Regions from separate parts of the Homo sapiens genome. Here regions 2 and 3 are each linked to region 1. The links come from fine-mapping of genetic effects on gene expression. A gene starts in region 1. Each other region holds a variant in brackets. All regions are shown on one strand. Distances are between the middles of the regions.

Region 1 (8,192 bases):
ATATGCACAGGAAAATAAGCAAAATAACTGAAGACAGTGAGTGCATGCCTGTGTATATATGCATATATGCCATCTACTTTGGAATTTAAATCACATTTTCCCACAGAAACACAGAGAAGGTGGTTAGGTTTCAGTTGAGGTGACTCCTCAAACTTATTTCATGCTTATTTAGTTAAGCCTCAGTAGCTGTCCTTAATTCCTTAAATCTCAAAGTGATTTTCAACCAAGTTGAGGGGCTAATGGGTAGTGCTGTATAGCTGGAAATAACACATTCGATATTATGACATAATTTTACAATTAGAAAATGAACAACTATTTTTCATGATGCAGAAGCCACTATTTTAATTAAATGAATTTGTAAGTGGTAGCTATAACATACATACACAGCGTGACCTGCCAAACACTGCTCCAATATCTTTACACATAACTTACTTTTCGTTATTTAACTCACTTTATTTATTTATTTATTTATTTATTTATTTAATGTTATTTATTTTGAGACGGAGTTTCACTATTGTCGCCCAGGATGGAGTGCAGTGGCGCGATCTCACTACAATCTCTGCCTCCTGGGTTCAAGCGATTCTCCTGCCTGAGCCTCCCCAGTAGCTGGGATTACTGGTACCCGCTGCCACGACTGGCTAATTTTTGGTATTTTTAGTAGAGACAGGGGTTTCACCATGTTGGCCAGGCTGGTCTCAAACTCCTGACTCCAAGTGATCCACTCGCCTTGGCCTCCCAAAGTGCTGGGATTACAGGCATGAGCCACTGCGCCCGGCCTAACTCACTTTATTCTTAAAACAACCGCAAGAGGGAGTACCGTCAATATTCCCAGTTTTAAGGTGAGTAAACTAAGGCAGAGGGATGTTAAGTAATTTCCCCAGTCACATAGTTCGACAAAGCTTCTTGGTGGGTGAAGATACACAGAAAATATTTTATTTTCTGAATAATCTCATTATCCAATATTCTTTACTCGGGTTGAAAACAGAATGAAGGGATAAAGGCACTATGTTAATAGTTAGGTAAGTACTTTTTTTTAAAGCAGTAAGTAAACTAAAATGATTCATATTAGTATGGCCCCAAATAATTCCATATTGTTTATACCACAGACAGGTTCACACAAGGGCCCTAAGATATATATACATGGATGTTATATATATATATATATATATATATATATATATATATATATATGGATGTTACATAACAAAACATGTTATGTATGGATGTTACATAACAAAACAAAAATCCATGTGTGTATATATATATGTATATATGTATATATGTATATATATGTGTATATATGTATATATGTATATATGTGTATATACGTATATATGTATATATATGTGTATATACGTATATATACGTATATGTCTATATACGTATATATATACATATATACGTATATATATGTATATATATACATATATACACATGGATGTTATATAACAAAACACTACAGCAGTGTTTTGATGGCTAATGACTGAAAATCTAAATGTCCATCAATGGGGACAGGCTAAATACTATTTTTATATTTTTACAAAGGACTGCTGTGTAGCCATGGAAAGGATGAGGTAGTTTTATACCCATGGATATTGAAAGTGCCTAATATACAGTACTAAATGGCAAAAGCATGTGTATTAGGATTCCACTTGTGGGAAAGACAGAAGGGGGTATATATTATCATGTGCTTTATTATGATCAGAAAGTTTCTTAAATATAACCAAGAAATTATTTACAGTGCTTACTTCTGGGAAGTGGGGAATGGAGATGGGTAGATCAGTAGATAGAAAAGAAAAAGACTTTTTTTACATTGTATCCTTCTGTATTAAATTTCCTTTTATCAAAAGCATATAGCTGATTTTAAAATAGCTTAATTAAAAATACAGCAATATAGAGCTTAGTCTCCTTTTACATAATGGTTTCTAACCACAGACTGGTATGTAATGATCAGTGGTATTCCTAATAGTAATTAACCTAGAGAAATTAATGAATGATTTATTTTATAAACAAGGATAAAGTCAACATCCCTTTAATTAATCCATTAATCAAAGGGAGAAAAAGAAAGGGGGCCTATAAAACTCAAGCAGAAGGTTGAAAAAAATCTTCTAAAGATCATGTTTAAGAAAGGCTGCATCCCAGAGTCTGGATGCCAGAAATGCCAACGACCTTCTTGAAAAACAAGGAAGTATCTTTACGTGATTGTCAAATTGGGTTGGGAGGTCCCAAGGTGTGGACAAGGCTTTTTAAAAACTTCATTCTTTTACGTTTATACTTTTGCATATTTCATATTATACACAACATATTTACAGTGGTAGTCATACACTATAAATAATTAAACACACAACATTTGGGGAGATGCATGCTCAAAAATGTTTTACTGATAGGGAGTGCAATTAAAAGGTTTGGAAGCTGCTGAGGTAGTAAAAAATATTGATGCAGTGAAAAGAAAAACATTAAATGGTCATTCTGTGGTCAAGGGATGAGAAGTAAAAGCTATGAAGCAGTTAATGTACAATGCCTGCAACTTTTGAGTACTCTTCAACTTTTTCCTGCATCTATTCCAAAACCAAATCCTGCCATTTTTCCAATAGGATATTTCCTGAGTTTGCCCCTTCATAACCATTCTGACCATCTAAATCTTATCAATTCACGCTTTTGGAAAGGCCTCTGGCCCTTATGTAAAGAGCCCTCCACTTGCTTGCATCTTGCACAGAACTGTAAAAAGGTCCTTTAAATGCTCAGACAGCTTCCAACTATCTCCAAAAGTGAAAGTACTTACCCATGATTGTAAATATCCCTGTCCCACTCTCAAACTGTCCGCTCCCCATAGACCAACTGGAGCTCTTTAAATAAGTCAGACAAATATATTCCTCATTCCTCAAAGGACTCACCCTCCCTTTCACATTCCGGTTGTGCAGATTAAACATACTCCACACCATCAAACCAAGTTATTTTTCCTCGAGAACTCTCTTAGAGGTTCCTTTTTCTCTAACAGCCTGCCCACCTCTGATTCCTGGGATTTTCGTGTTGACGGGATCGTTGGGATCTTTCCTCTCTTCTCATCTTTCCAGTAACCCATTAGCATTAGCAGGATTATTGGACAGGCCTCCGTTTGCATTAATATCTCCAATGATTCTGTGATCTCCGCCCTAAAGACCTTTGATTTCTTTTGGTCGCGCCTCCCCTTCGGGACACCAAGTTTGTTTAGGGCCTGAGCACAGGGGCCCAGCAGGTTCTTTCCGACGTCAGCGGCTGCGTACGGAGGCCGACTTAGGCAGGCCGCTCCAGGAACAAGGCCGTGCGGACAGGACTGACCTAGGCGCTTTTCCCCGTCGCTCCCAGAGGAGAAACGTACCGGGGAGGGGACAGACCGTGAGCAAGTGGTCCAAGTCTGCGCAGGGTGACCCCGAAGGCCCACCGGAGAGGCCGAGGCTTGTGGGCTACTAGAACTAGGCCTGGTAGGTGAAGGAGGCGGGTGAAGGGCCGGATCCAGGACTGAATCCGGGAGAGGCGGGGCGAGGAGGGGACTCCGGTGTAGCTGCTTGGGCAGCTCCCGCGGCCCCTCTGGCGGGGGTGACCGTTATTGGACTCGCAGAGGGAAGAGTTGGGTAGCGTCCCCTACTCACCTAGAAGCGCTGCCGCCTGAGGCTCCAGCTGCCCCCCTCCCAATTCAAGCCACGTCAGCTCGGGAAGCCCGTACGCGACACCTTCCACCGCCGCGCCCCGCCAGGGACTCAGCCACTAGCAGTTGGGACGGAAGATGGGATTAAGACACCGACCAATCAGGACTATCGGCAGGACGTTACCAGGGAGACCAGGCACACCTTGTTTGTTACCAACCTATCAACAATGACGGAAACCAATCAACGACAGAAGATGCTCCGCTTCCTCAAAGAAACAGCCAATGGACCCTAAAGAGTGAATGAGGGGAGTGATTAGACGCGAGTAGGTGCCCCGGAACAAGATCTGGGGAGGGACAGGAAGTGTCGAGTGGGCGGGCGTTCTGGGAAAGGTCAGATGTTCTCAGTGTGAAGTGGTTATGCTGGCTTCCTCCAATTCCTCCTCTTCGTCGGTTGTGACTGACCGAGACAGCGGCTTGGGCTTCGGCAGAGACTTGAGACTGCGGGCACCCGCTGCCATTAGGATTGTTGAATGAGCTGTGAGAAGGGAGTGGGGGATATGGGACTCTTAGATTGAAAAAATACTGGAGCCTCTTAGTTGTTCGTCTAGTTTCACCTTTTGATTTTGTTGATGAAAAATAATTAACCACAGAAGTAACTTGCCCAAAGTCAAACAGCGACTTAGTGATGGAACTCGGACTAGAACCCGGTGTCAGTATGAAAGAGGATCAGCAATGTCTGTAAGGACATGATTGTGAGAGAGAGAGTAGTGAATACTAGGAAGGTGCCTCTTACAAAGTGGAGCCTAAGCCAGGACCTAAGCAAAGATTGAGAGTTGAGGGCTCAGGCTCTGCAATGAGTGTCAGTGAGGAGCTCCAGCAAAAGACTGAAATCACTCATGCTTTCCTTAAACCCCTAAGGAAAGGGAAGGAAAGTAGCCAGTTTCCAATGAGCTGTCATTTCAGGCACTCTCTTGGCAATAAGAGTAATGTTAGTTTGAATTTATTGAATCTTGCTGTGCACTCAGCTGGCCCATTGTATGTATACTCATCTTAATGATTACATAACTTCACAATTCAAACATCAGCTAAGTAAGGCCTTTCCTGGCTGCCCATCTTACGGAACTGGAGGTCATTATTCTAAGTGAAATAAGTCTGGCACAGAAAGACAAATATCCCATGGTCTCACTCATGTGGGAGCTTAAAAAGTTGATCTCATGGAGTAGAGATAAGTACCAGAGGCTGGGAAGGTGGAGTTGGGGGAGGGAGGGAAGAGATTGGTTAATGGGTACAAACGTAGATAGAAGGAATAAGTTCAAGTGTTTGATAGCACAGTAGGGTGACTATAGTTAACAATATGTTATATATTTCAAAATAACTAGGAGATTAGAAATGTTCCAAACACAAAAATGATAAATGTTTGAGGTGATAGATATCCTAAACACCCTGATTTGATCATTACACATTGTATGCATATATCAAACTACCACACCCCATAAATATGTACAAATATGTATCAATACAAACATAAATAAAATTGCAATTTCCTGCATGCACTATATACTTCTTCTTTGCTTCTTTTTCCCCTAAGCATTTTGCCATCTAAAGTACTATATATTTCATTTATCTGGTATCTCTCTTCTCATTAGATTATAAGCTCCAGGAAGGTAGTAATTTTGATCTCAGCTTTATCTCCAGGTCCCAGAAAAGTATAGAGGAGGGCACTCAATATCTGTTAAATTAATAAAGTATATATGATTATCCTTATCTTAAATGTGAGACAATAAGACTTCAGAAGGTTAAATAATTTGCACAAGGTCACATGGTGAGGGGCAGAGACAGAATTTGAATGCTGCAGTACTTAATGAATACATCATATTCTTATATCCCTGATTGTATCCACCCAGCAAAGTCCTAAACCTGCATCAGTCCAACCATTGGTCTCTACTTCTACCTTTGGGGAGCAAAATGCTGCAGGAGACATCAGGACAATGTCATCAGTGACATCAATGTCCTGACCACTGCACATTCAGTTTCCAGCTGAACTCCATCTTCAGCACACTCCCAAATCCTTCTTGTCTTCAGCTTCCTCTCCTATTTGCCACAATTATTCAAACCTTTAACATCCTCTTTAAGTCCCAACCCCGTGTCTACACTTCACACTCCTAGCAGATGAACTTGCTTCTATCTTAGAGAAAATAGAAGCCATCACTGAGAGTCCTATTGTACTCCCTTACACAAAATTTACCTTTCTACATACTTATTTCCACATTCGACCTTAGAATTTACCTTTCAGTTTTAACAGAATGAAAGTTTCTTATGGGAGACGAGATTAGAATTTTTTCTGTCTAGTAGGTCTTCTTATAGCTCTACCTTCTATTATTGGGTGAGCACAGTATGGTGAGAATTATAGTGAACACTAGGGGTGTGAAGGAAGAAAATGAGGTGGAGAAGTTAAAGAGCAAAACATATTATTTCTAAGTTCACTGAAGGACTGGAAATAATTTAGAATGCAACTTAATGGAAGCAATTTAGGCTCTGAGAGGGTGATCAAGATAATAAAAGATAATTAGGGGTTGCCCCAGCAAAAAAGAGGGTACAGAATAGTGGAGGTAGATGGAGCAGCATGTGCATGGACCATTTGGGCAATTTGACATAAGTGATATGACTGAATGGTTAGGCAAAGAGTAGGTCATAAAATTGTGCCATTTTATGCTAAGGGGTTTGGATATGACTCTAAGCTCCAGAGCAGTTAGAGACTGCAGAAATCACAGAAGTGTGGAGTCATTCAGGTGTCCCTTAGAGAGTGATCATTTCCCTAATTGAAAGTACAGGGAGGAAAAGTTGAAAGACAAGAAATGTCACATTCTCTGTGATTTACTGTTGCCCAATTCCCTCTCCCCTTTTTCAGTTCTTTCCTCATCATCATCTTACCTTCCTCTATACCAAATGCAAACTTATTCCAAAACTTTCATGCAGCCTTATTTATTAATGTATCTTCCATACCTAACGTATCTTCAGCATAGTATATACTCAATAAATATTTGTTAAATAAAATATCCAACATAGAATTCTATATGAATAAATCTTAAAATCTTGGAGAAATAAGAAATTGTCTTGAAAAATATAACTTTGAGACATATCAATTATATGCAAAAATATACAATCACATGATCACATCAACCAATGAAGAAAAATATTTTCACAAGAAGAGGGAAGGTGGGGAAAGAAGAAGAGGGATGGTGGGGAAAGAGGAAGGGAGATGAGGGGGGAAAAAGAAGAAGGAAGGAGAGGAAAGAAAGGGGAAAGGAAGACGGAAGGTGGGGAAAGAAAAAGAGGGATGGTGGGGAAAGGGGAAAGAAGAGGGATGGTAGGGAAAGGGGAAAGAAGAAGAGGGATGGCAGGGGAAGAAGAAGAGGGAAGGTGGGGGAAGAAGAGAGGGAAGGTGGGGATAGGGAAAAGAAGCTGAGGAAAGAAGGTGGGGAAAGAAGAAGAGGGAAGGTGGGGGAAGAAGAAAAATCAACACCCATTCATGATTAAAAAAAAAAACTCAGAAAACTAGGAATCGAAGGATATTTACTCAACTTGATAGAAAAATATTGCAGATTCTTAATGGTGAGAAACTGGATGCTTTCCCTCTAAGATCAGGAACAAGGTAAGGATGTCCCCTGTCACTACTCCTAGGTGACATTATACTAAACCTCCTGCCTAATGTAAGACAATAAAGGGAAATAAAAGATATTCATACTAGCAAGTAATAAATAAAACTGTCTTTGTAGATGGCATGATTTTTTATGTAAAAAATATCTAAGAATAAACAAAAACCTCCTGGAATTAATAAGCAATTTTAACGAGGCTACAGGGTAAAAGGTCAATTGCTTTCCTCAGCAAAGAACAATTGGAATTTGAAATTAAAAACACAATACCATTTACATTAGCCTCAAAAAAAAAAGACGAAATAAATACTTAGGCATAAATCTAACAAAATATGTACAGGCTCTATGTGAAGGAAACTAGCAAACCTCTGATTAAAAAAATTAAAATCTAAATAAATTGAGAAATATTCCATATTCCCAGAAAGCATCAGTATTGTTACGATGTCAATTCTTCCCAACTTTATCTGTAGATTCAATAAGATCTCAATCAAAATCTTAGCACATTATTTTGTGGATATCAACAAATTAATTCTGAATTTTATATGAAAAAGTAAAAGACCCAGAATAATCCACAGACTATTCAAGAAGAACAAAGTTGGAGGACTGACGTTACCCAACTTCAAGACTTACTACACAGCTACAGTAAACAAGACAGCATGGTATTGGCTAAAGAATAGACAAATAGACCAATGGAACAGAATGGACAGCCCCAAAATAGATCCACATAAATGTAGACAACTGATCTTTGAGAATGGAGCAAAGGCAATTCAATGGAGAAAAGAGTCTTTTCAATACATGGTGCTAGAACAACTGGAAATCCACATGCAAAAAATGACACACACCTTATACCTTTTATACAAATTAACTCAAAGTGGATCTTAAGATGTAAATATAAAATGTAAAAATATAAAACA
Region 2 (8,192 bases), 81 kb before region 1:
TTATCTTCAAAGTGCTAAGGCTTACAGAGGTTAAATTACTTGCCCATGGCGGCACAGCCAGTAAGCGGCAGAGCCAGAATTCAATACCCAACTTTGTCTTTCAAGCCTCACGTTCTTTTTTCCACCACACCACACCTGACTTGGAGAAACTCATTACATTTTTTTCTTTTATTAAAGGCTAATAGGCAAAAGCATCCAAAGAAGATTTCTGTGGGGTTTTAAAAATTAAATTGAACTAAAAAAAATTAAATTGAATTGGCAGTCTCCACTGCCTTCTGGCTCAGTTTTTGCTGATTTGCTTATTTAATACTGGAACTTCTCCATTTAATGAAGAAGCTGCCATTACTCACTCAATGGTTATGTCAAACAAACAAAGGAGCTGCATGTAACACAGCACGTTTGATCAAGCATTTGCCTATAGGGATGAACTTTTTCAATAGGGAAGAGAGGATGAAACTCTTGCCTCTACTCTTTGTGTTTTCTCCTTCTGAAAGGATATCTATTAGTTTAATATTCTTGGGCTCTCTGCAGGACACATTCTTTTCCCCGGGAGAGAAGAAACACCTTAATCCAATTTGTGAGTCTAGAAAGAGAACTGAGCATGCACAGCCTAGCTCCTTCTTTCCTGCTTCCCTCCTGAGAGCCAGGCTGACTAAAAAATACACCTTCTGTGTCTATTCCTCCATGTGATAAGCTTTTCAGAAGCAGCTTTGATCTGGAACAGCATGGTCTGTTACTATGGAGGTCAGTCTGTCAATGTAGGCTATGCTGAGGAAGGATGAGAAGTCTGTAGGTATTGATGAGGAAGATGGTACTGGCTGCCTTTAAACTGGAGGGCCACTGAGTTCCACCTGCTCTTTAGAGTACATGTGAGATTCTAACATTACAATGGCAGTACCTGGACTAGGCAGGCAGCCCTTAATTAGCTACCCCAACTTCCATTCTGCATCAGAGCTAAAGAGGGAATTGTGGCTTGAATTAATACGGCTTGCCCACAGGCTCAAGAGTCATCATCCCACACATGCAGTCTCAGTTGGTTTGGGACAGGTTAGTTACACAAGAGGGAGATCAACCTCCCCATTGGCCAGGTTTCACCGGTCTAAACAATTCAATAGCAAGTAGAAGAGAAACAGTCATGAGGGCACAGGCCTGAAAATGCTCGGCAGAGATGGCAAGACACCACACAAGGCATTAAGCAAAGCTGGCCCACCCTCAAAGCTGCATATCAAGGCCTGAATAGGTGATGAAAATTAAGAAGTTGTGAATATGTTGGATTGGAAAGAAAGGTATCTCAAGTAAGACCTGCTCAATGGGGCTGTCACCTCTGCCACATAAACTTTACAAGAAAGCATTAATATCAGAAATGTCATTCTCTGAGGAAAGTGATCATATACATAGGTGGCTTTCTCCCAAAATATAATAAAAGTGCCTGCTTTTAACGATATTTTCCGTGGAAAGGGACTTCCAGCAGCAAAATACTTGTAGCAACTCTCTATCCTCTCATGCATAGTGATTCTTTTGATGAGAATAAGGAACTAGGGATGTGTAGCTCTGCCCTTCCAAATTACACTTGGAGCAAACTGCTCATAGGAAGCACAGTTCACTCTGTTATTCCAATACTCTTGTTTGGCAAGAGCAGGATTTTCTGTGAAGGAGGTCTACCTTGGCCCAACATTGTCTGTGACTGGGAGGGGAAGTTCAGGGTTAGGAAGTGCATTTGCCAACAAATAAAAAGCTACATTCTTTTAACATCATTTATAAAGCAGTCTTTTAATCTCTCAATCTTTTAATCTTTTAAAAAAGATTTCCATGGATTCAGATCTCAGGTAGAAAATGAGGTTGTCACTTATTTGGTCCTCTAGAGAACCCAACACCTACCTCATATAGTTATGGTTAGGGTGAAATAAAATATCTTTCAGTAATGGTAGATATCATTATTATTCTCTAAGAACAACTGTTTTAGAAAACACTGACTCTCTTATACTCCAAAAGTACAGTGTTCTCTTGGGTGACCACAATGTTGGTAAACTCATTGCAGCAACTACCTCAAGATGAGAAAAAGATCTTAAGAAATCCTAAGTCTGGCAGGAAATGTACATGAGTTTGATCAGAAAGGATCGGAAGGGAACAGAGGCTATCTCCTTCAGCCTTTACCGTCTGATCTGCTCCTCGGCCACAGAGAGAGCATTCTCAGCAGCCACTCTTTGGTCTCGTTCTTCTTCCAGCAGCTTCCTTAATTCATTCACTTCCTGTCTGGTGTTGCATAGCTGCTGCTGAGCTTCAGAAAAGCTTTAGGATGAGAGGAAAACAAAAAGCATCATCAGATGCAGAAAACAGTTGCTAATACAAGGGATTCAAAGTCTTCATAAGGTTGTAAAGCAAGAAAATCCATAGAAGCTTGTCTAAACACAATATTTTAAAAGCAAAGCTGTAGAGGGATTAAATGAAGCTGCAGAAAATACCTAAAGAAATTTCAGGAACTGATTATCTTTCATTTTACTATCATAGAGTAGTTGTTAGTGGTGTGTGTGTGTTGGTGTTGCTCTTTTTGTTTTACAAACTTTTCACACACAAATGTTAGTTATTATTGTTACTATTTGATCCTCACATCACTTCTGTGAGGCTAATAAGATAACAAGACATATTAAATCCATATAAAGGACTCCAGTTAAATCTAGATTACTGCCCAATTTCTGGACTCTGGTGTATGCTCCAGGGTTTAGAGAGCCACTCCCCTACCTTTGCTGCGGTTCCCTTAGTTCCTCAGGGTCACTCTTTCTGTGAACTCCATTCTTTTCCTGGGGAGCTCCTGGAGCAACATCTATATTTAGTGGCCCCTGGAAGAAGAATAAGCTTAGTAATTCAGTGATGAAAGCTCTTAAGAAAGTGTATTTGAGCAAAATGAGAGCTCGTTTACAGAGGACTATCCCCGCTTATAATTCTCAAGTCCAAATTTAGAAGTGAGAAGCTTCTGCTCTAGCAGATTACTCACCTACATAAAACTCTTGTCTTGATTAGATTTTTCTCCCAGATTCTCATTCTTGAATTTCTCCTCTTAAAAGTTAAGTCTGGGCCGGGCGCCGTGGCTCAAGCC[T/C]GTAATCCCAGCACTTTGGGAGGCCGAGGTGGGTGGATCACAAGATCAGGAGTTCAAGACCAGCCTGGCCAAGATGGTGAAACCCTGTCTCCACTAAAAATACAAAAAATTAGCCGGGTGTGGTGGCAGGCGCCTGTAATCCCAGCAACTCGGGAGGCTGAGGCAGAGAATTGCTTGAACCCAGGAGGTGGAGGTTGCAGTGAGCCGAGATCGTGCTACTGCATTCCAGCCTGGGCGACAGAGCGAGACTCCGTCTCAAAAAAAAAAAAAAAAAAAAAAAAGTTAAGTCTGCTGTGGATGCTTATGGCTTTTCCAGAAGCCACTTTGATCCTTCCCTTGCTTGTCCAGCCCCTCCCAACCCCCTTTTCCTCCTCCGTATCCTATACGTCTCCATACTAATTCTCAGTCTCCTCCAACTTCAATGCTGTACTCCTCTCCCTGGCTGTCAACAGTGCTGCCTGTTTTGTTCTCAGATCCAAAGTTTCCTACAATTTTCTTATAACTTAAAGCAAAATCAACACTTTCTCTGTTTCAGAGTACCAAATGTCTCAGTCATCACTGTTTCCTACTCATGTTTTGATTTCTCTCCCACCATCTCACTGATCTTTTTTCTTCTAATTGCTTCACTGTAATTTTTCTCAGACCTTATTCCCATCTCAATTAACTCTTTCTTCTCTCCCACTTTCTTCCCTGACCCCTAATTACATTAACTTCTTCCATACTGCTCTGTAGTGCTTCACCACTTGCACTAAATTTCATCACACTTCTCCCAGTCTCTCACCTTCTCTTTACTCACCGCCTGCAGCTCTTGAACCTGCTTCTCCAAGACTGCACAGTGATTTAAAAGGTCACCATAGTGCTGCTGGTTCTCACGAAGACTCTGACTGGTATCGCAGAGCTGAATGGAAAGGGTGTTTTTCTCTTCCAGTAGCTGAGAGAACTGAAACAGAGGCGAGGATAAGCATCATCCTGCAGTACTGTAAGCAGTGCTGAGGTGAAATGTTCTGAGTTTTCAGGATCTAATTTTCCTATGGAAGACCTTTGTTTCAGCAACAGCAACAATAGCACTTTGTGTGCCTTCAAAGTTGGAAAAAGCATAATTTTTTTTTGACCAAGACAGAAAACAATTCTGGAGGAGTAGCAGAAAGGTTTTTTTGTTTTGTTCTGTTTTGTTTTTTTAAATGGTGCCCAGTACATTAACTGAAAAACCATGAAGCAGAAGTCCATAAGCAATCTAATTACATAGGCTATTCTGGGTACATAAGAGGGAGAAGGCAGTACCTCAGGGTCAAAGTTCATGGTACTAACAAATGACTATAATCTCCAGAACTCAATATGGCTGGAGAGAGCTGTCACCCCAAAATCTGTGCAATAATATTCCTAGGCAGATTCCTCAATGCCATAAAGAGTTATAAGTTACTGAGAGAATAGAATAAAAAATTATAATATGTGGTAGAAGGGAGAAACAGAATAAATCCCAACATGTATATGTATATGTCAGAAACTGTTGAGAGCATAGATTCTCCCAGGTAGAAACATTTCAGTCCCTTAAAGCAGGACTCTCCTCTACTGCATGACTAACAGGTCATCGTTCAGTCTTCCCTTGAACATGTTCAGTGTCAGGGCGCCCACTGCCTGACAAAGCAACCCAAACCATTTAAAAAACTGAAAATTCATTTTTATATTGAATGAAAAATTTACCTATTGTAGCTTCTACCCATTGATTTGAATTTGGTACTCTGGAACTATAATTCTCTCACTTGCAGGCTGTCAAGTTTTAAGTTTTAGCTGTGATTAGCCTCCAGGTACATTAATAACCATGGAGATGTCTCTCCAAGTTATCTACTCTAGGACCATGTACATTATATGAGAGGAACCCAGTATACCAGTTGCATGTTCAATTTTTTCTTGATGATTCTTTTTTGTAAGTTTTTGTGAAAAAAAGTTGAAACAAACAATGTTTTAGAGGAGAGACGACAGTTTTCTAGAGACAACTGTGAGGAAGGGCATTTGATGCAAATAGAAAATTAGAACAAGATAATCCATACATACTTGTAAAAGTGCTCTGTTAGCTGAAAATTGCTCTTCAGATGTAGGGTTGTTTTTTGTGTTTGTCATTCTGAAGAGCAATGTTAGCTTACAAAGTACTTTCACCAGTATCATCTTATTTGAGAGAGGTAGAGAAAGGATTTCTGTCCTTGTTTACAAATGGCTAGTAGATGTCAAACCAGGACTCAAGTGTGGTTCTTGATTCCAAGTCTAGAGCTCTATCTACTATCTGATGGTGTCCAGTCTGATAGTCTAGCAAGGAAAGCTAAGAAAATCATAGGGTTTTCTTTTGGGGGGGGGGGTGTGGGAGGAGGTGGGAATAGTTAGGAAAGGATATAAATATTTGGGAAGTGATACTAATTTGAAGACAGTTAACTGGGTACAATGACAACTATTGGATTCTGAGACAGGGCACAACATGTTCTTCCCTTAACCTAAGAGGAAGTTAATTTTCCTGGCCACAATGAACAGTCCAAACCATACCAAAAACAAAAACATAGATCCTTCTAGTTTAGGGGTTGGCAAACTATGATCCAGGGCCTGCTGCCCTTTTATCATAAATAAGGTTTTACTGGAACACAACCAGCCCAATTGATTCTATATTGTCTATGGCTGCGTTTGTGTTACAACTGCAAAGATGAGTAGTTGTTAACAAAGACCATACAGTCAACAAACCTAAAATATTGTCTGAGCCTGAAGGAAAAGTTTGCTGACCTCTCCTCTAGCTTATAAGCTACTATATTTCACTGTATCTATACCTGTAAAAACAAAATAGGAGGGAACAATTTAGACTACATTATGTCACTAATCATCCATCTCATGTTTTTAAGTTTCTAGCACATTCTTACATTACATACTAACATCCAAACAGCTGGTAGAAATGCAGTCATCCCTTGTTATCTATGGGGTATTGGTTTCAGAACCACCCCTGGACCCCCAACTCCCAGTATACCAAAATTCGAGGACGCTCAAATTCCTTATATATAATGGCAGGGTATTTGCATATAACTTATACACAACCTCCCAGATACTTAAAAAATTTTTTAATTCATGTATAATAGATATACATAGTTTCAGGATACATGCTATAATGTAATATATTCATATAATTTGTAAAGATCAAATCAGTGTATCTGGAATATCCATCACCTTAAGTATTTGTCTTTCCTTTACGCTAGAAGCATTTAAATTCTTCTCTTCTAGCTATTTTGAAATATACAATAGATTGTGGTAAACTATAATCACCTATTGATTTACCTAACACTAGGTCTTATTTCTTCTATCAAACCATGTATTTGCACCCATTAATCAACTTCTCTTCATTCCCTCCTCTCCTTTATCCTTCCCAGCCTTTAGTAACTACCAATGCACTCTCTATCTTCATGAGATTCACTTTTTTTTTTTTGCTCCCACACGAGTGAGAATGTGATATTTGTCTTTCTGTTCTTGGCTTATTTCACTTAACATAATGTCCTCCAGTTCCATCTATGTTGCCACAAATGACAGAATTTCATACCTCTAAAAGCTGAATAATATTCCCTTGTGTACATATACCACATTCTTAATCTATTCATCTGTTGACGGGTACTTACATTGATTCTATGTTTTGTTTTTTATGAACAGTGCTCCAATAAACATGGGAGTACAGATGTCTTTTTGATATATTGATTTTCTTTCTTGTAGATACGTGGGTTGCTGGATCATATGGTAGTTCTATTTTTAGCTTTTTGAGATACCTCCATACTGTTCTCCACAGTGGCTGTACTAACTTACATTGCTAACAGTGTATGGGAGTTCCCCCTTTCTCTGCATCCTTGCCAGAATCTGTTACTACCTGTCTTTTTGATAAAAGCTATTTCAGCAAAGGTGAGATGACATCTCACTATAGCTTTGATTTACAATTCTCTGATGTTTAGGGATGCTGAGTATTTTTTTTTATATCTGTTGGCCATTTGTATGTCTTCTTTTGAGAAACGTCTATTCAGATCTTTTGCCCACTTTTAAGTTGAGTTATTTGTTTTCCTGCTATTTAATTGTTTGAGTCCCTTATATATTCTGGTTATTAATCCCTTGTTAGATGGGTAGTTTGCAAATGTTTTCTCTCATTCTGTGGATTGTCTCTTCACTCTGTTGATTGCTTCCTTTGCTGAACAGAAGCCTTTTACTTGCTGTAATCCCATTTGTCTATTTTTGCCTTGGTTGCCTGTACTCTTCAGGACTTACACAAAAAAAGCCTTGGCTAGATCCATGTCCTGAAGCATTTCCACAAGTTTTGCTCTAGTAGTTTCATAGTTTCAGATCTTAGAATTAAGTCTTTAATCCATTTTGATTTGATTTTTGTATGATGAGAGATAGGAGTCTAGTTTTATTTTTCTGCATATAGATATCCAGTTTTCCCAGCACCATTTATTAGAGAGATTGTCCTTTCTCCATCATATGTTCTTGGTGCCTTTGTCAAAGACAAGTTGCCCCTAAATGCCTGGCTTTATACCTGGGTTTCTAATTGTTTCATTGGTGGTCTGTGTGTCTGTTTTTATGCCAGTATCATGCTCATTAAACAGGTAGTGTGATGCTTCCAGCTTTGTTTTGTGTGTTTTTTTGTTTTTTGGTTTTTTTTTTTTTTGAGACGGAGTCTCGCTCTGTCACCCAGGCTGGAGTGCAGTGGCGCGATCTCGGCTCACTGTAACTTCCACCTCCCGGGTTCAAGCAATTCTCTGCCTCAGTCTCCCAAGTAGCTGGGATTACAGGCCCCCGCCATCACGCCCAGCTAATTTTTGTATTTTTAGTAGAGACGGGGTTTCACCATGTTGGCCAGGATGGTCTCGAACTCCTGACCTCAGGTGATCCACTCATCTTGGCTTCCCAAAGTGCTGGGATTACAGGCATAAGCCACCACACTCGACCCAGTTTTCCTCTTTTTAATCAAGATTGCTTTGGCTAGTTAGGAGTTTTTGTGGTTACATACATATTAAATTTTTTTTCCCATTTTTGTGAAGAATGTCATTGGTATTTTGATAGGGATTGCATTTAATCTGTAGATTGCTTTGTG
Region 3 (8,192 bases), 100 kb before region 1:
CAGAAGAGCCTGCCGGTCAGATTGCTGAGGCTGAGTGAAGTACAGTGTCCTTGCCTTTCTGAGATGTGTGCTTCTCCACTTCTCCTTTATAATCAAAGCCGACTGCTGACTACAGAGAAGAGGAGACAGAATTGGTTAGAGTCAGAGCTGACAGGTTTTCCTCTTCCTAACCTCCCCTTACTCCCAGCCAGCCCCAGAGGTAGTTTGTAGGGGCTTCAGGCTGAGTATAGGTGTTTAATGTAGAAACAGGCTGGTATGGACACAGGATACTACAGAGCAATGAACATAGGCCCTGGACACAGACAGTTTTAGGTTCAAACCCTACATCCCCTATTTATAGTTGTTGAAGTTTAAGCACGTTCCTTTATATTACTAAGCCCCAGTCTCTTTCAATATAAAATCAGGAGAGGCATGCCTGCCTTATCTACCTCGACTGTAAAATGAGAGAAATGATCCCTCTTCATCTGGGATGTCATGAGAACTAAATGGGACAAGGTAAAGTGTCTACTTAGTTTCATTCACTAACTTAGCGCTTTTCTTCCTAACGAATCCTCACAAAAGTGAAATGTGATACCTAGAAAAGTGCCTTGTAAAGTATAAAGCACTCTGCTCATGAAGAGACATTACCCTATTCCCAGTTGATAATGCTGTGCCTCTTCTCTTTCATTACTCAATAATGGAAACACAAATATGTGGATTTTGGTGGGATAACTGCAACCAGGAGAGTCTGGATCCTAGCTGGCTCTGGGACTGGATATGTTGCCCAGATACCCAACATTACCGCAGAGTTTTGGAGCTTTGTTCTCCATCTGGCTCAGGAACTATGGGTATCTAAGCAAGTCTGGGTTTTTGCATATTAAGAACTAATTAACATGTATTGTTTCTTGATTTACATGACACACTGACTGGGTGATTCCATTTGTGGCTTGTGAGCAAAAGATGTAAGAATCGGTGATTAAGCAAAGGCAGGCAAGAGTGGTGCCAAGATGGAACAGGGAATTCCATCCTGATTCTAGAACACTGCATGCTCCATATTTCACTATTGCCTTCTACATCTTCCCTTAGCTTTGCAGTATGTTTTAAACTTTCCTGATTTTGTTTTTCATGGTTTTACCCCCCATGATGCAAACAATTAATTTTCTAGAACTTAGCTGCCTTAGCTTCCAATCCTTAGCTTTAAGGATGCATGTCCACCTAATTAACAACTGTTGGTAAAAACAAAGAAAAAATCTCAGCTAACTGTGAAGGAGCTGTCCTCTCTCTGTGTGCAGCTGCAGGGCAGGAGACACCATTCTGCACCATAAAAAATGAGTTCAAAGAATCCGACCTAATAAGGCGTGGAACTAAAAACATCGATGAGTTATCAATCTTACTCTCCTGTCAACGATATGATGCTGTAATCATACGGTACTTTTTTTTCTCTTTAAAACAACATTTTGTTTTGTTTTGTACAAAGGAGTCTTTAAAGATATCTGGACTTCATAGATTGATGCTAAATTCTGTAAATAGTAACCCTAATTAGTTGTTTAACTTGATTATCTGCTGCTATGGCAATAATATTTAAACTGATGAATCTGTTTTCCTAAACGGCATGAGTATTTATAAGGTTTTGATGTTAAGCCAAAAGAAGAGCTTAGATGATTCTCTGTTCTATCTTCATGCATATGAGTATAATAAAAACCAGTGGCTTGAGGAATTATTCATTCAAACACACAGTTTGAGAGTCTTCTCCTATTTGAATCACTGTCTTTCAGCTCAGCATGTGGCTTCCAACATTGGCACCAAGGAACTTGCTGAGGGAGGTATCCCTGTGACGGTGTCAGGTCCTCACAGCATCCACTGTCCTGTCTTTCAACAAAGAAGCATGTGCCTCCATCCAGGGGTGATCGTGGGCAATTTTCACAGGACTGGAGGTGGGTGGTTGGGAGAGAGAGTGGTCACTTACCTTGTCTGCCCTGTCCCTCTCAACTCCGTACTTGCCCCCAAAGCCTTTGGCAGCATCCGTCTGAGAAGAGTGCTTCTCCACCTCGGCAACATACTCATGGCCCACTGCACTCTGAGAAAAATCAAGGATGGAGTGAGTGAAAAGATAAAAATGACCTTAAAAAAATAAATACAGATATGGAGTGGGATGTAGGCATGTAAGAAATTCCATTCTGGGTCAGATCTATAGCCTCTGACAGTGGTGCCAAGGAATACGCGATGGGAGAGCAAGATGACTTTTTCTGGAGACCTGCTCATCCCTGTTCTTCTCTAATACCATTAGGAATCCTTCATTCTGAACACTCCCATAGGATGGGCTGGGAACCAGGGGATAGAGACAAGGTAGACAGAGCAGTGTTTAAACCAGAAACAAAAAGAGCTGAAACAAGAGCATTGTGCAGCAGAACAGAGTGTAGTGTGGGGTAGTGTGGAGGAGAGACCAAGGGGACTGACCGGACGCCATAGCCGGGATGGAATATTTCACTAGGAGAGCCAATGATTTTGTTCTAGATCTTTGCTCCTGTATGGCCATCAAAGTTCAGAAGTGAACTCTGAGCTTTATACACCATGTAATGTAGGACATGTATACAAAAAAAATCACTAAATACACAGTAAATAAAATAATAAAGAGAAGTTGCAACATAGACATAATACATAAACATTTAAATGCAGCAAATAATTTTAAAACATATTTTTTCCTTCTCCACTTGTGCTCCCTGTCTTCTTGGTCTAGGAGTTACAATGTGGTTGGGGCTACAACAGGCCAGCAGTTCTAATATCTTGGTTCTTATTTTCTGCCATGTATATCTTATGTGTTGAGATCAGAAAAATTTGATACAAATAATATGTGGACATTATATTTTAGACCAAATGACTACTGTACTTTTGAATGAGTTTTAACTCATGAACCAATGAATGAGTCAAAAAATATATATTTTGATCTAGAACAAAAGTATCTGGGTGTTTTAGCAAAATTTTTAAATATACTTAAATATTATATACTATATATTTATGAATAAACTATATATTTATAATATAAATATGTTATATCATATAATTATAATATATTAAAATATACATAATATAAATTTATATATTTACATTTACTTATAATTATGTAACATATATTAATAATATATATTTATAAATATATTTATAAATAATTATATAAGTATATAATATATAATGTATTAATATATAATATATTAATTATATACTTGTATTAATATATAATATATTAATTATATACTTATATATAATATATACTTATATATAACAGATACTATATATAAGTATATATATAATATATCTTATAATTAATATATAATAATATAATATTAAATATATTATTTATATTTTTATATATTTTATATATTTATATATATTTTATATATATTTATAAATAAAAATATATAATATATATTATATTTTATGTATTATATTTTATATACTTATATAATATAATATATATTATATATTAATTATAGTATATAATATATTACATTATATTACATATTATTACTATGTAATATATTACTATGTAATATATTACATAGTAATAATATGTAATATAATGTATTAATAATGTAGATTATATATTATATATGATATATAATATATAATATAGATATATTATATATTATATATACTTATATATAGTATCTGTTATATATAAGTATATAAGTATATATTATATATATTAATATATATTTATTACATATATTAATATATATAATATATATTAATATATATACTTATTATATATTATATATTATAAGTATATATTATATTATATATACTTATAATATATATACACTTATATATAATATATAAAATATAATATACATTATATTATATTTATAACATATATAAAATATATAAGTATATATAATAAATATATACTTATATAATTATATACTTACATATAATTGGCTCTTATAGAGCCAATTATTTTATAGCCAATTATTATAGAGCCAATTATTTATTATAGAGTCAATTATATATACTTATATATAGTTGGCTCTTATTATAGAGGTATATAATTATATATAAGTATATAATTATACATATTTACAAAATATATAAGTATATATATCAATTTTTTAATGTATTATTTATTTATTTTATTTATTTTTTTTTTTTTTGAGACAGAGTCTCGCTCTGTCTCCCAGGCTGGAGTGCAGTGGCATGATCTCGGCTCACTGCAAGCTCTGCCTCCCAGGTTCACGCCATTCTCCTGCCTCAGCCTCC[TGA/T]GTAGCTGGGACTACAGGCACCCACCACGACGCACGGCTAATTTTTTGTATTTTTAGTAGAGATGGGGTTTCACCGTGTTAGCCAGGATGGTCTCGATCTCCTAACCTCATGATCCACCCACCTTGGCCTTCCAAAGTGCTGGGATTACAGGCGTGAGCCACCGCACCCGGCTTGTATTTTTTTAAAGCAAATCTTTCCCTTTCAACTTACCTTGTCCATTCGGTCTCTTTCTACTCCAAACCGACCTCCATAGCCATGGGATGCTTTGGGCCCTGACTCCATCTCTTTCTTCCTGAGAACATCATGCTCCTCTGATACTTTGTTCCTCAGCTGGTGGATGCTGGAAGAAACCACATGACCAAGGCTCATCTATCCTAGGGAGATCAAGAAACCCATCTTCCCAGAAAAATGGAAGCCTTGAAGTCTGTCCTGTTTACTTTCAGTAATAACCTGGGCCCCCAAAATATACTAGTGATGGGTCTGGAAGTAAAAGATCAGTCTGGCCTGCATACCATAGCCTGATTTAAACTCTCCATAGGCCAATAATATTTCCTCTAGTCTGTTATTTGCTCACTAAAATAACCTTCTGATCTTTAGTCCCATTTTTCATGTTCTTAAATATTAGAGGACAATGGTACCTATATTCTGATAACTGGAAAGTTATTTTCTTTTCTGAATGGATCTGCTTTCTATCAATTAGAGGATGTGTCTCAAAAAGCAGAAAAATATTCACATACCATTGGACCTACACATTCTAGTTTTAGCAGTCTACACCAGGGAAATGATTTTAAATATGGCAAAGCTTAATGTCCTTAATGTCTAAATGATACTCATTGAAGCATCGTATATAATAGCAATAACTAAGAAACAATCTATATGACCAATGGTTGGATAATAGTTAAATAAATTGAAATACTACCTTTCACTAGTGTACTAGGAAGTCATTAAATATAATGCTTATAAAAACACAGAACTGGGGAAATTTATGTAAACATTAGTGGTATTTTTTATGCTTTTTGGTCATGAATTAAGATCTTCTGCCCCTTCCCCCCAGGCTGATAATACCTGAGAAAACTAAGGACTAATGAAAACTAACTAAGAAAATCCACTCACAGTTATTGCTATAACACTTTAAGCCTCAAATTATCTTGATTTGAAGGGACACCTCTATCCCTAAGAGAAAGTACCACCAAAAAAGGCATTATCTTTCTTACTTCACACCCACTTCCATCTTTACCATGAAGGTGACTGCAACAATTAAGAGGGCAGAAAGCCATCTTGGCCAACCTCTTTGGCTTGAGGATATGAAGTGATAGCTCAGCCCCACGTGACAATCAGATCTGTTATTTGGACACATATAAGGATCCGGGGATTCTTGGAAACATTTGGGCAAGAGAACCCTAAATAAGAAATTTGACTTTCTGCAGCAAGCAATGAGGGTTTAGGGTATTAAGATAGTGATGTTAGATGGTGAGCTGGGACTTTACCAGCGCAGGACAACCAGACACATTGGTTATACGTAGAATGGCTGTCTCACAGCAGAAATTGTCTTCTTTTAAGGAAGAATAGATCCATCTGGTGGCCTTTAGTGGATAATTCTACCAAAGGTCTTTTTAAAAAGCCTTCTCAGCTTTAGCCGCAGTTAATTTTAGAAAGCTGGCTATGAACCAGATGAAATTAAGCCAAGTGCTGGAAGAACCCCCTGTTCCCATGCCTCCTCTAAACTCTCTGGCAGCGTTGAAAGCAGAGATCTTGTGTTGTCAGTTCAACACCAACACTGTGTCATAAGCTACTAGTACCAAGGACATGTAAATGCCTGCCCAATATCTTCCAACTGAAGTATTCAGATGAAAGATCAAGAAAATGGGGCCAAAATTTACTTTCAAATGGAAAAAATCTGCAATTTTTTAATGAATATAATAATTGTTAAATGGGTTATAACTATATTATAGTTAAAACAAGTTTTTAAAAGGGATTAGAAAATGATACTCAGAAATATTCATCTAAAGGATAACAGAAAAACTAGTCAGGGGATCATACCAATGATATAATTTGAATGAAATTGTTGAGGCCCAAAGAAAACAGACTTCTTTAGGTTATAGTGGAAGTCATTCTAAACAGGTCTTTATTATTATTATTATTATTGAGACAGAATCTTGCTCTGTCGCCCAGGCTGGAGTGCAGTGGTATGATCTCAGCTCACTGTAATCTCCGCCTCCCGGGTTCAAGTGATTCTCTTGCCTCAGCCTCCAGAGTAGCTGGGATTACAGGCATGCATGTCATGCCCCGCTAGATTTTGTATTTTTAGTAGAGACAGGGTTTCACCATGTTGGCCAGGCTGGTCTCAAACTCCTGACCTCAAGTGATCCTCTTGCCTTGGCCTCCCAAAGTGCTGGGATTACAGGCGTGAGCCACCACGCCTGGCCTAAACAGGTCTTAATCACATCATTCCTTCATTTTATAACTATTAACTAAACAACTTTTAAGTGTGAGGTACTGTTAGGCTCTGAGGACACAAAAATGTTTTATGTATGGAGATAGAGGACAGCTAGAAGAGATAGAGAGGAAAACAAAAAATTCCAATTCAATATGCTGTGTTGTGCCTAAGAAACTTTTGACATATTAACTCTCAGATATCCAATTTAAGTTTTAAAAGACTTTGTATTGATAAAGCAATGCAGTTTATGTGAACCAAGCAAAATGTAGCACCTCAAAGATGACTCATTCCTCAATCTGTGTTTGTTTTTTATTACAAAACTAAAAGCACAAATGTGAGTGACTCAGAATATAAGGTTTTTATTCACAGATGACCTGATCATGTATGTAGAAAATCCTAAAGAATTCACACAAAAAAAGCTACTAAAGCATTGTGCATTTGGCTAGGTCACAGGATACAAGGTCATTATATCAAAATCAATTGTATTTTTACATACTGGCCATAAACATTTGGAAACTGGAAGTTAAATATAAATACATGAAATAACATGAAACATTTTAGGATAAACTTAACAAAGTATGTGCAAGACCTAAACACTAAAAAATATTTCTGAAAATATTAAAGAAGATCTAAATAAATGGAGAGATATCCCATGTTCATGGATTGGAAAACTCAATATCATTAAGATGTCAGTTCTCCCTAAAATGATCTATAGATTCAATGCAATCCCAATCAAAATCTGAACAGGCATTCTTGTAGGAATTGACTAGTGAATTATAAAATTTATGTGAAAATGTAAAGTCCTGGAATAGTAAAATCTTTTGTTTCTTTTTTTTTTTTTAAGGAGAGCAAAGTTGAGGACTACATAATTTCTTGACTTATAAAGCTACAATAATCAGTGCAGTATGGTATGCTGTCAGGGTAGAAAATAGATCAACAGAACAGAATAGAGTCCAGAAATAGACCCACATGTATGTGGTCAAAGATGCCAGGTAAGTCAATGGGAACAGAATACTCTTTTAATATTGTTGAACAACTAAATAATCACATGGAGAAAAATGAACCTCAATCTTGACCTCACACTGCACAGAAAAGTCTACTTGAAATGGGTCATAGACTTAAATGTAAAAGCTAAAACTGTCAGTCCTTTAGGACAAAACATCAAAGAAAGTCTTCACAACTTTGGGGTAGGTAAATATTTCTTAGACACATAAAGCATTAGCCCCATAAATTTTTTTTCAATAAATTAGACATCATCAGGATTAAGATCTTTTGCTCTTAAAAAGATGCCATTAATAAAATGAAAAAGTGGCCAGGTGTGGTGGCTCACGCCTGTAATCTCAGCACTTTGGGAGGTCAAGGCGGGTGGATCACAAGGTCAGGAGCTCAAGACCAGCCTAGCCACTATGGTGAAACCCCGTCTCTACCAAAAATACAAAAATTAGCTGGGCTTGGTGGTGGGCGCCTGAGTCCCAGCTACTCAGGAGGCTGAAGCAGCAGAATCGCTTGAACCCAGGAG

Which allele goes with the higher level. Positions count from the first base shown, and alleles are read on the strand shown. Sizes are in standard deviations (SD) of each study's normalised expression. Not every link is listed here.
For the expression in rectum of the gene that starts at base 3,739 in region 1, TGA is the high allele of the variant in region 3 and T is the other (large effect, 1.1 SD a copy in CEDAR).

Evidence for each region. PIP is the estimated chance that this variant, and not a neighbour inherited with it, causes the effect. A credible set is the group of variants that fine-mapping cannot tell apart.
Region 2: its variant is the best candidate, but not a certain one, in a credible set for the expression of GOLGB1 in whole blood (INTERVAL, PIP 0.56).
Region 3: its variant is the best candidate, but not a certain one, in a credible set for the expression of GOLGB1 in rectum (CEDAR, PIP 0.73).

The regions. Positions count from the first base shown.
Region 1 is chr3:121,746,003-121,754,194 of GRCh38, forward strand. It overlaps GOLGB1 (golgin B1), which reads right to left and starts at 3,739. Exons shown (of 22, transcript NM_001366282.2): 1 at 3,630-3,739. RefSeq lists enhancers at 3,397-3,446, 3,467-3,706.
Region 2 is chr3:121,665,322-121,673,513 of GRCh38, forward strand. GOLGB1 (golgin B1) reads right to left here. Exons shown (of 22, transcript NM_001366282.2): 18 at 3,891-4,034; 19 at 2,740-2,837; 20 at 2,155-2,289. Among named protein-coding and RNA genes, the nearest start is that of HCLS1, 8.5 kb to the left of the region's middle. The variant T/C (reference allele first, on the strand shown) is at 3,095.
Region 3 is chr3:121,642,873-121,651,064 of GRCh38, forward strand. It overlaps HCLS1 (hematopoietic cell-specific Lyn substrate 1), which reads right to left. Exons shown (of 14, transcript NM_005335.6): 4 at 4,447-4,576; 5 at 1,946-2,056; 6 at 55-109. Among named protein-coding and RNA genes, the nearest start is that of HCLS1, 14 kb to the right of the region's middle. The variant TGA/T (reference allele first, on the strand shown) is at 4,234.